Linked DNA regions of Homo sapiens: region 1 is linked to region 2. Evidence: fine-mapped expression QTL. Tissue or cell type: whole blood. Region 2 holds a variant in brackets; the other region holds the start of a gene. All regions are shown on one strand. Distances are from middle to middle.

Region 1 (5,112 bases), 280 kb before region 2:
TGCAGCTTGAGTAATTTCAGGATAAAAATTAGATTGCAGGAGTAATGTAAGTAGTCTATTGAAGGTGATCAAGAAACAGACAAAATGAAAATGACTCGAGGTTTGGGGATAAAGATATGAAAAAAGGGATGGGCATATGAAGAGAACGGAGAAAATATTTGAGATGGATAGACAGTAACACATGAGGGGAAGAACGCAGGGGTTGGGGAGACAGAGGATATAAAAGAAAAAGGCTAACAACGAAAAAAGGTTCCAGAAGCAGTGAGAGGAGACAGTAACAACAGACAGACAAAAAGGGAGGAATCCTTCCTACTCAAATTAAAGGATGGGTGAAAATACAGAAACACAAGGAGGAAACTGTGTGTTAGGGTTGGGGAGCAAAGGGTGCATATCAAATGGCTTCAAAGTTTTCATAAAGTAGGGGGTCTGGAATCTACAAAGAGGTAGGGGTTAGAGGACCAAAGAGCAAAACTGATTTTTAGTAAAATGGCAGGATGTGTTAGAGGATATATAAGGAGAGATGAGGGCAAAAGAGCATCCTCGAGCAACTAAAACATCCTGTTACACGTAACAGGTTCATATAGATGTTAATATATATTTAGTCCAATTACACTACATTTCCCTTACATAGCACAATAAGTAATTTGTGTTTAAAAAAATGATCTGTCGGCCGGAGGCGGTGGCTCACGCCTGTAATCCCAGTACTCTGGGAGGCCGAGGTGGGTGGATCACCTGAGGTCAGGAGTTGGAGACCAGACTGCCCAGCATGGCGAAACCTCGTCTCTACCAAAAAATGCAAAAATTAGCTGGGCGTGCTGGCAGGCGCCTGTAATCCCAGTTACTTGGGAGGCTGAGGCACAAGAATTGTTTAAACCCGGGAGGTGGAGGTTCCAGTGAGTCGAGATCGCGCCACTGCACACTACAGCCTGGGCGACAGAGCAAGACTCTGTCTCAAAAAAAAAAAAAAAAAAAGAAAAGAAAAGAAAAAAGATCTGTCAACCATAAAATGATTTTTTTTTTTTTTTTGAGACGGAGTCTTGCTCTGTCGCTCAGGCTGGAGTGCAATGGTGCGATCTCGGCTCACTGCAACCTTCTCCTCCCGGGTTCAAGCGATTCTCCCGCCTCAGCCTCCCGAGTAGCTGGGATTACAGGCACCGCCATAGTGCCCAGCTAATTGTAGGAACGGGGTTTCACCATGTTGGCTAGGCTGGTCTTGAACTCCCGACCTCAGGCGATCTGCCCGCCTCGGCCCCCCAAAGTGCTGGGATTACAGGCGTGAGCCACCGCGCCAGGCCCGTAAAATGAAATTTTAACCATAGATTCTAAATTGCGTATTCACAGAGTAACTGAGACGATTGCAACTTATTTAAAACTATGTGTAAATCATCTTGAAACAAGTTAATGAGAAAGATCACATGATTAAAACAATAAAAAATGTTGCTTGAGGAATAATGCACAGACGGAATTTAGAAAAAAGGAAAGCCAGAACAACTGCAGACGGTTCTTTTCGCTTTTGTATAGGACTGAGCTCCTCTTCCGGACAAAAACCAGGAATAAGGGAGGTCTTCTTAGTAAAAGCAAAAGTAAATTGTCTTAAAAAAAAAAAAAAGGTTGCAAGTGATTTGGTCTTTCCAGAAAAGTCAATACCATGTCTAACAGTGGTCTCTACTACAATAACCTGAAGGTGCTAATGACCCTCACAGTAAAATAAGCTAGCAAATGGCCACACCGTAGAGCGCCTACATTTACTGCCAATTAAGTCCAACTGCCGCTGTCTTAATATTTTCGCTTTTTAATGAATCCTCTCTCTAGGTATTCCGATCCATCCACCGGTAACACGCTGATACTTCGAAATACTGCAGGCAGGAGTGGACGGGGGAGAAGCCCCCCCCCTCCCCGGGCTTCTTTCGTGTTCGGGCCTCTGCTGCCGCGATCCACGGAAGCAAGAATGAGTTCCATCGCTTGGGGCTCACCAGCTAGAGGGCTGGCGGAGGCTGCGAGGGGCAGAAGTAGCAGCAGGCTACTGGGTGGGCAAGCGGTGTGTACCGCAGCTGTGGAGGACATCGACGCGGAACGCCCGGATTGAGCTCAGAACACACCGGCCCCGCCCGGGACTCATTCTACAAGCTTCTTCGGAAGAGGCGCCCGCCCGGGAGGAAGGGTCTAACCCCGGGCTCCACCGGGAGGAGATAAACTACTCACTGTCAATGTCCTCGATGAGGCTGGCGGTGCCAGGCATATAGTTCATTTTGAACTGAAATAATGCTGCAATGCACAGCGGCGGGAGGCCAGCGCGTCCAAAACCTCTTCCCTCCTACCGCAGTCGCCGCCTCGGTGGGACCAAGCCCGGAATCCCGACCGAGACCAGCACTTCTGCCCCGGCTTTCAGCCGCCGGGGGCTGCCGGAAGCTCCTCCATATTACCCTTACCCACTTCCTGTAACACGTGTGGGCCCCCAGGAAGAGGCGGGGCAGCCGTACCGTTGGGGGACACCCTTTCCCTGTTCCTGTTAAGTAGGTAAGAGGAAACTCCATTGGATAAATGGCGAGGAAACGTATACTCCCTCTTAAGGAACACGGTGTCTTCCTTCGTCTCCGGGTTCCCGAGACCCCAGAGTCACTGACCTCCGTCCCTCAGCTTTCGGGGTTCGGCAGCAGAAGGGGCGGGCCCGGGCCTGGGATTGGCTGGCGTCGTCCGACCCCCTTCGCTGCTCTCCATTCGCAATCGCCCGCGGGCGCCTGCGCGATGGGTCGGCCGTGGGGAGCGGGGCGGGAAGCGCTTCAGGGCAGCGGATCCCATGTCGGCCCTGAGGCGCTCGGGCTACGGCCCCAGTGACGGTCCGTCCTACGGCCGCTACTACGGGCCTGGGGGTGGAGATGTGCCGGTACACCCACCTCCACCCTTATATCCTCTTCGCCCTGAACCTCCCCAGCCTCCCATTTCCTGGCGGGTGCGCGGGGGCGGCCCGGCGGAGACCACCTGGCTGGGAGAAGGCGGAGGAGGCGATGGCTACTATCCCTCGGGAGGCGCCTGGCCAGAGCCTGGTCGAGCCGGAGGAAGCCACCAGGTAAGCTTTGCACCCTCTGTCCTTGCGGGGAGGTGAGGGCCCTTGGGGCTGGGGTTCGTAAAGGATCGGGTTTCATACTTGTTTTCCTTATGTGGAGGAGGGTGTGTTGCGGGGGGTGTTGGAGAGACCGAGACTAAGATCAGAGGTTGGGGGGACATGCTTGTGTTCCCTTTGCCCCTCCTTTTCTGCTTCGACCCCAAAAAATATGTTTATTACCATTTAAAAAAGAAAGATCCTGCGCGGACTTACTAAGCTTAGCAGCAGGCTGCAGATCTCTCTCCTGGGAGCGGTGCTGGGTAGGGGTGGCACGGATCTACTGCTCCAGCTCTAGCAATTTATCCTGCGTGGCTGGCAGGCCGGCTCTCCCGGGGAAGGGAAGTGGCTGCAGCCCCCGATGCCGCTCAGGGACCCTCCCGAGGGGAAGGAACCTTTGCGAGGAGGAGGGATCTGGGCATTTAGCTGTTTGCCCCTAATGCCTTGCCTGAGATCGAATCATGAATAATCAGTGTTGTAAAGTACCTTTACGCGGATTGACTGATTTAATTTTCACGGCGACTGCAAGGTAAAATGGCATTACAGCGGCCCTTTTTTTTGTTTTCGAATAAGGAACCGGGGCTCTGCGAGGTTAACTCACTTGCCTAATACACTTGGACCTGCAACATTTTATTCTCCGTTTTCCTGCCGGACATATACTTCTGCTTTGTTAATACAGTCTTCTGGGTAGTGGGTTGTCGTTCTGCGGTGGCAGCATACCTCTCTGTTCGTTCAAGAATTATCCTCATTTGTTGAAAATGTAATAGTGAAATTCTCGTACATTGCTGGTGGGGATGTAAAATGGTGGAAAATAGTTTGGTAGTTCCTCAAAACATTAAGCATTAGAATTAGTCTATGACCCAGCAAGCCCACTCCTGGCTATATACCCAAGAAAACTGATAACGTATGTTCACATAAAGCTTGTCCGCCCATGTTCATAGCATCATTATTCATAATCGCCAAAAAGTAGAAATGTCGTTTTTTTTGTTTTTTTTTTTTTTGAGTTGGAGTCTCGCTCTGTTGCCCAGGCTGGAGTGCAGTGGTGCCATCTCGGCTCACTGCAACCTCCGCCTCCCGGTTTAAGCGATTCTCCTGCCTCAGCCTCTCGAGTAGCTAGGATTACAGGCGCCGGCCATCACACCCGGCTAATTTTTGTATTTTTAGTACAGACGGGGTTTCGCCATGTTGGCCAGGATGGTCTTGAACTCCTGACCTCAAGTGATCCCCCTTTCCCCTGCCCCTCGGCCTCCCGAAGTGTTGGGATTACAGGCGTGAGCCACTGCGCTCGGCCCCAAATGTCATTTTATTATTTGAGTTATAAAGTGAGTGAACCTCTTGGAGCCCTGGTTCTTTATTCGAATACAGGAATGTTGTAAGGACATAACGACTGATGCATCGATAAACAAAATATGGTGTTAATATATTCATTCAATGGAGTATTATTTGGCCTTAGAAAGGAATGAACTGCTGATGCATGCTACAATATGAATGAACCTTGAAAACATCACACTACGTGAGCTAAGTCAGTCAGAAAGACTGCATATTGTGTGATTCCATTTATATGAAATGGCCAGAGTAGGTAAATCTAGAGACAGAAAGCTTAATGGTTGCCAGAGGTTGGGGGACTGGCGGTGTAGGTGAGAATATTCTTTTTGGGATAATGAAATGTTCTAAAATCAGGGCCTGGTGAGATGGCTCACACCTGTAATCCCAGCACTTTGAGTTGCCGAGGCTGGAGGATTGCTTGAGTCCAGGAGTTCGAGACCAGCCTGGGCAACATAGTAAGACCTTGTCTCTAAAAATAAAAAAATAAAAAACAAAAAATAAGAAATGTTCTAAAATCAGTGGTGATGGTTGCACAACTCTGAATATACTAAAAACTACTGAATTGTACATTTTAAAAGGGTAGAGTTTATAGTATGTTGATTATATCACAGTGTAAACAATTGTATGAGAAAAACATGGAGCAGTGATAAATTATTTTTTATTTTTATTTTTTATTTTTGGGACAC
Region 2 (5,196 bases):
AACCCAAGCTAAACCTTAAACTAAGATTTGAGCAGGAATTATAAAAAGTGAAAAGGAAGAAAAGGACAGGAACAGATATTTCCAGCTAAGGGACTAGGATAAAACAATGTATAAAGTATACATTGTATTTACGGAAAAAGGAAGAGACTTGCTTGACTAGATGAATGAATAAATGAATGAGTGAAAAAAAATCAGTCAATGAATGGACCATTAGCCAGAAGCTAGTTTTTGATCCTAGAGAAAAGTGAGGAAGGGCTAAGCTCTGAATTCAATGTTCACTGTTGGTTAACTCCTAGAAACCTCCGTGTTGCTGTTTCTGACCTCTTTCTCTGCCCAACCTCGTAACCACTAAGTCTACTCTTTGCGGAACTCCTTGACCCTCTCACCCACTTCAGGCTCCCTGTGTCTCCATGTCCAGGGCCTGGGAACACAAATGGCACAGCCCCCACCCCACCTTTTACACAACCCATCCCGGGAGGCTCAGCCACGCCACAGCATGTGAACGAGGAGAGGGCGTGGAGTTTCAAGCTCTGCCAGGGTGGATCTTTCTCAGTGCCTGAAACCAGCTACACGGAGCCCTCACCCCACAGCCCCTAGTTTGCAGGGCACAAATGCTTTACATGAAGGCAGTAGATACCTGTTTGGCAAGTGGAAAGGCAAGAACTGTTGTGAGCCAAGAAACAGGAGAAGGGAGGGAACTCTGAGGGTAGAAGTTCAATGTCTCTTGGTGCCACACTGGCAATGCTAAGAGGCAACAGGCCCACTACCGGGGAGGAGGGGTTAGGGCAATTGGCCCTGCTACTTGGCTGCCACCAGCTGTAAGTCAGAGCAAACCCCAAGGTCAGAAGTGGCCCAGACTCCAGCAGGCTTCTCCTAGGAGGAAACAGTTTGGGATTTAGCCCAGGCCCTTCAGATCCAGGTAGGGCAGTTAGCTTTCAGCTTAATTATTTAGGGTGCAGTGGGGCTGGGGAGTATGGTGGGTGGGGAGAAGGGATTGCCTGCCTGCAAGTTGGTGAAAGAGCCAGGCCCAGGAGGAAGGCCTGGGCCGCCCCGTTCAGGAGCCCAGGAGAATGAGAGCAGCTGGACTTCCCCGGTCAACAGGGAAACAGTTGTCTCATTTCCAAGCCTCAGGGAAGGAAGAAAGAGGCAAAGGTGGTGTCTACAGGGTGAGCTGGAGCCCCCAGTGGCCCCGGAGGAACGAGGCATTGTGAAAATAGGGCCAGCTGCTGGTCGGGCTCTCTGACCCCAGACCTCGCCCTCCCGGATAATGACTCCCCAGGACTCACTTCTCCCAGGGCCATTCATCACCGCCCAGACACAAGCCATCACTCACTGCTTCTGCCTGGCCAGGAGCAAACACCCCTCCGTGCTGGGGCCACAGGCTCCCAAAGAATCCCTGATGCTGTCTCTCCAGTTCCTGCTGACCCGACTCCAGGTAGTCACAGGAACCAGGTGATGGAAACCCTGACAGAGTCTTTGTTTGGGATCCCTCCCTTCCCCCACTGGCAGCAAGATCTCTGGACAGCCATTTGTTCTTCCCTGAGAAATTCCTCCTCCCTGACTTCAGGGAGCGGGCCTGGCAGAGCCAGAGTGGAAAATCAGTGAAGCTAATGGTGTAGCAATGCAGAAGCCGGAGCCAAGAACACAGCCTCGGAGTGGCTTTGCTGCGCTTGCCCCAGCTTGGTCAAGAGGGCCACGTGAGCGTCCTCACATTCTCTCACAGGCCGAGGGCTGGGTCCTCCCTGTCCAGCTCTGAACACTTGCAAACACCCCTTCCAGGCACTGGAGCCACTTCTCCAGGGGAAGTGGGACAGAGCTGATCCTCTGGGGAAACCTGTTATGAGCTTAGCACCTTGCAGATTTCTAGAGGCCTAAATCCTCCACCCTTGTTCTCAAGAGGGTCATCTGACATCACCTTTTGCTCCATGGAATTCCATTCGCCTTCTGGCAGGGGATGAAGAAACTCCTCTTACCATCCAGGTTGAATGAGAAGCAAACAAGTTCTTTTCATCATAAGAAATCATGCTGGAGATGGGGTGGGAGTAGGGGAGGGTCTTGCCTGTGTCCCAAGGCAGCCTTGGGACACAGGACCACAGTCCAGTGTAGATGCTAGACTACAGGTCTGATAGTGGAACAGAGGGTGTCCCACTACCAAACCTGTAGTACCTATTTGAGACTCTCCCTGCAGCCAGGCTGAAACGCACACCCCTTTGGGCCAAAGGCAGCTGGAGACGCCCAGGGATGGAGGACCTGCAAGGGCCCTATGATCTGAGGCTAGGCAATGGCTCTGGCACCACGCACAGCCTCTCCCCCATAGGTGCAGGTTTCTGCAAAACACAGAGACAAAGCCCCGCTTTGTGGTGCACACAGGGCATCCAGGGGGCTTGAGGCCAGAATGGAAATGTGTGGTTTTTCCATTAAGTGCAACCTCTCCCCCCTCTAACAAGCCACCAGACTCCTTCAAATCTGGGTGGGTGGGAGGAGCTGTAAAACTCAGCCCATTAAATCACTTCTGAGCTGCAGGTTTTCTGAGCACTGGGGTGTTTAACCCACAGTACTGCTGAAAAGGGGGCAGGACCCCCACCCCAACTACCAGCAGTGGCCTTGCAAGCAGTGTTGTACTCACTCACTGGCTTTGCCCACCAAGACTTGACTTATTGCAAAAGACAGACAAATGCACCCTCTGCAAGCTCAGAATGTTGGGGCTTATCATCTGAAACCGGCTTCAGTCTTTCCAAACAACTCCCTCACCACTCTCAAAGCCTGATCTGAAACAAGCTGAGGCTCTGTAAGATCCCAAACCAAAGGAGGGGAAGGAGAGGGAGAGGGGAGGGAGGCTGGTTTTCCTGGAACCCTTATTAAATCAACTTTCCAAGGACAGCCAGAAACTCCAGGCCCTCCCCAATCCCTCAGGAGCACTTGCAGACTGAGGGGCGTTGGTACTGCGCTCAGTGGGGAGGGGCTCCCGACAGACACACAGACACACA[GACAC/G]ACACACACACACACACACACACACACACACACACACACACACTTAAAATCACAGCAAGGCCTTTTAAATGGGGAAAACTCAGTGTGAACAGGGTTTTAGGTGGTTTGCTCTCACCTTTTGGACAAAGCCCTTAATACATAGATTATAATGTGTTTCTTCTTTTTTTTAAAGACAGGGTCTCCTTCTGACACCCAGGCTGGAGTGCAGTGGCTTGATTATAGCTCACTGTAGCCTCAACTCCTGGGCTCAAGCAACTCTCAAGCAATTCTCCCATCTCAGCCTCCTGAATAGCTAGGACTGCCGATGTGTGCCACGTTACCCAGCTAATTTTTAAAATTTTTAGAGATGGGGTCTTGCTATGTTGCCCAGGCTGGTCTGGAACTCCCGGGCTCGTGCAATCCTCCTGCATCGGCCTCCTATAGTGCTGGGATTACAGGTGTGAGCCACTGTGCTCGCCCTATGATTTTTTTTTTAGGACAACAGCAGCATTGGCCAGGCATGGTGGCTAACACCTGTAATCCCAGCACTTTGGGAGGCCGAGGTGGGCAGATCATGAGGTCAGGAGACCGAGACCATCCTGGCCAACATGGTGAAACCCCGTCTCTACTAAATATACAAAAAAACTAGCTGGGCGTGGTGGCACGCGCCTGTAATCCCAGCTACTTGGGAGGCTGAGGCAGAAGAATCGCTTGAACCCAGGAGGTGGAGGTTGCAGTGAGCCAAGATCACGCCACTGCACTCCAGCCTCGCGACAGAGTGAGACTCCGTCTCAAATAAATTAATTAATTAATTAAAAAATATCAGCATTATTATTTAATAATCAGCAGGCCCAAGACTATGCAATATACTTTACACTTACAAGGTTCCTTACAGCTTACAAAGCATGAAGCCAGATCTCCCCTTAGAATGTCCTGGGCACAGCAGTTCTCTGTTCTGTCACAAAGCTCATGAGAGACAGGCTATGTGAAAGCACCACACTCACACTGAGACGGGGGCTTACTCCACCAAACAGAGACCTGGGGCTTGTTCTCCAAGTGCAGGGGCTTTCCGTTGCTGTGTCCCATGAAACAACATGCTCCTCGCCATGTGCCGTCTCCCCTGGAGGCCCAGGGAAAGGGACCCACAACGGCCATTGACTGCTCATGGCCTACGGACCAGGCAATGTCCTATGAGCTCTGCAGACATGCTTATTTGATATTCACAATGACCTTATGAGCACACATTCATTATCAATATATTTTATAAAAGGGCACAAAGAGGAACTTCCCCAAGAGCCAACAGTCAGTAAGGTGTGGAGCCAAAATCAAAACCAGGGCAGTCCAAGGAAAATGTGTGCCCACCCAGGCTTGCACATGAAGGTTCACAGCAGTCTTATTACAATAGCCCAAACTGTTATACCTAAATTAAGTTGGTTTGGCCAGGTGTGGTGGCTCACACCTATAGTCCCAGCACTTTGGGAAGCCGAGGTGGGCAGATCACTTGAGGTCAGGAGTTCAAGGCCAACCTGGTGAAACCCATCTCTACTAAAAATATAAAAATTAGCCAGGCATAGTGGTGAGCACCTGTAATTCCAGCTACTTAGGAGGCTGAGGCAGGAGAATCGCTTGAACCTGGGAGGCAGAGGTTGCAGTAAGCCAAGATCATGCCACTGCATTCCAGCCTGGGCAACAGAGTGAAACTCTGTCTCTTAAAACCAACCAACCAACAAACAAACAAACCCAGCTGATCTTAAACTCCTGGGCTCAAGTGATCCTCCTGCCTCTGCCTCCCACAGTACTGGGATTATAGGTGGGAGCCAATGTGCCTTTGAAAATTAAGTTGATTTTTAAAAAATGGTCATTTAATGTCAGTCTTCCTGGGTACATGGCTCCTAAGAGCCCCATCCACCTCTCTTACTCCCTTTCTTCTGTTCACAGGGCCGGTACTTTGTCCTCATCAAGATCTTCAGCCCCCAGGTTCCAGCCTCCACCCTGCCCCAGCAGCTTCCGTGAAGCCCCCTCCTCTACTAGCACCCCCACCCTGGCCCTAAAGTTCCTTATACTCATCCCGTCGGGCTGGCTCACAAGCAGCCAGGCCCGAGATCCACTTCTCCCTTCTTGGGCTGCAAAAAAAAGAAAGTACTTTAGGCTCCATTATAAATTCACATTCTCAAACCTCAACTAGCTCCTTGCTACTCTTCCACTCCTTTATCGCTGTCTACAATT

Evidence for each region. PIP is the estimated chance that this variant, and not a neighbour inherited with it, causes the effect.
Region 1: LSM1 starts here. The variant in region 2 is fine-mapped to the expression of LSM1 in whole blood (INTERVAL, PIP 0.96).

What each region holds. Positions count from the first base shown.
Region 1 is chr8:38,174,073-38,179,184 of GRCh38, forward strand. It overlaps LSM1 (LSM1 homolog, mRNA degradation associated), which reads right to left and starts at 2,421. Exons shown (of 4, transcript NM_014462.3): 1 at 2,203-2,421. The coding sequence starts at 2,248. It overlaps BAG4 (BAG cochaperone 4), which reads left to right and starts at 2,783. Exons shown (of 5, transcript NM_004874.4): 1 at 2,783-3,067. The coding sequence starts at 2,798. RefSeq lists enhancers at 1,389-2,246, 1,826-1,915, 2,247-3,104, 2,326-2,475, 3,386-3,725.
Region 2 is chr8:38,449,213-38,454,408 of GRCh38, forward strand. All of the region lies in intron 2 of FGFR1 (fibroblast growth factor receptor 1), which reads right to left. Among named protein-coding and RNA genes, the nearest start is that of FGFR1, 17 kb to the right of the region's middle. RefSeq lists enhancers at 1,321-2,044, 2,045-2,768, 3,493-4,216. The variant GACAC/G (reference allele first, on the strand shown) is at 2,988.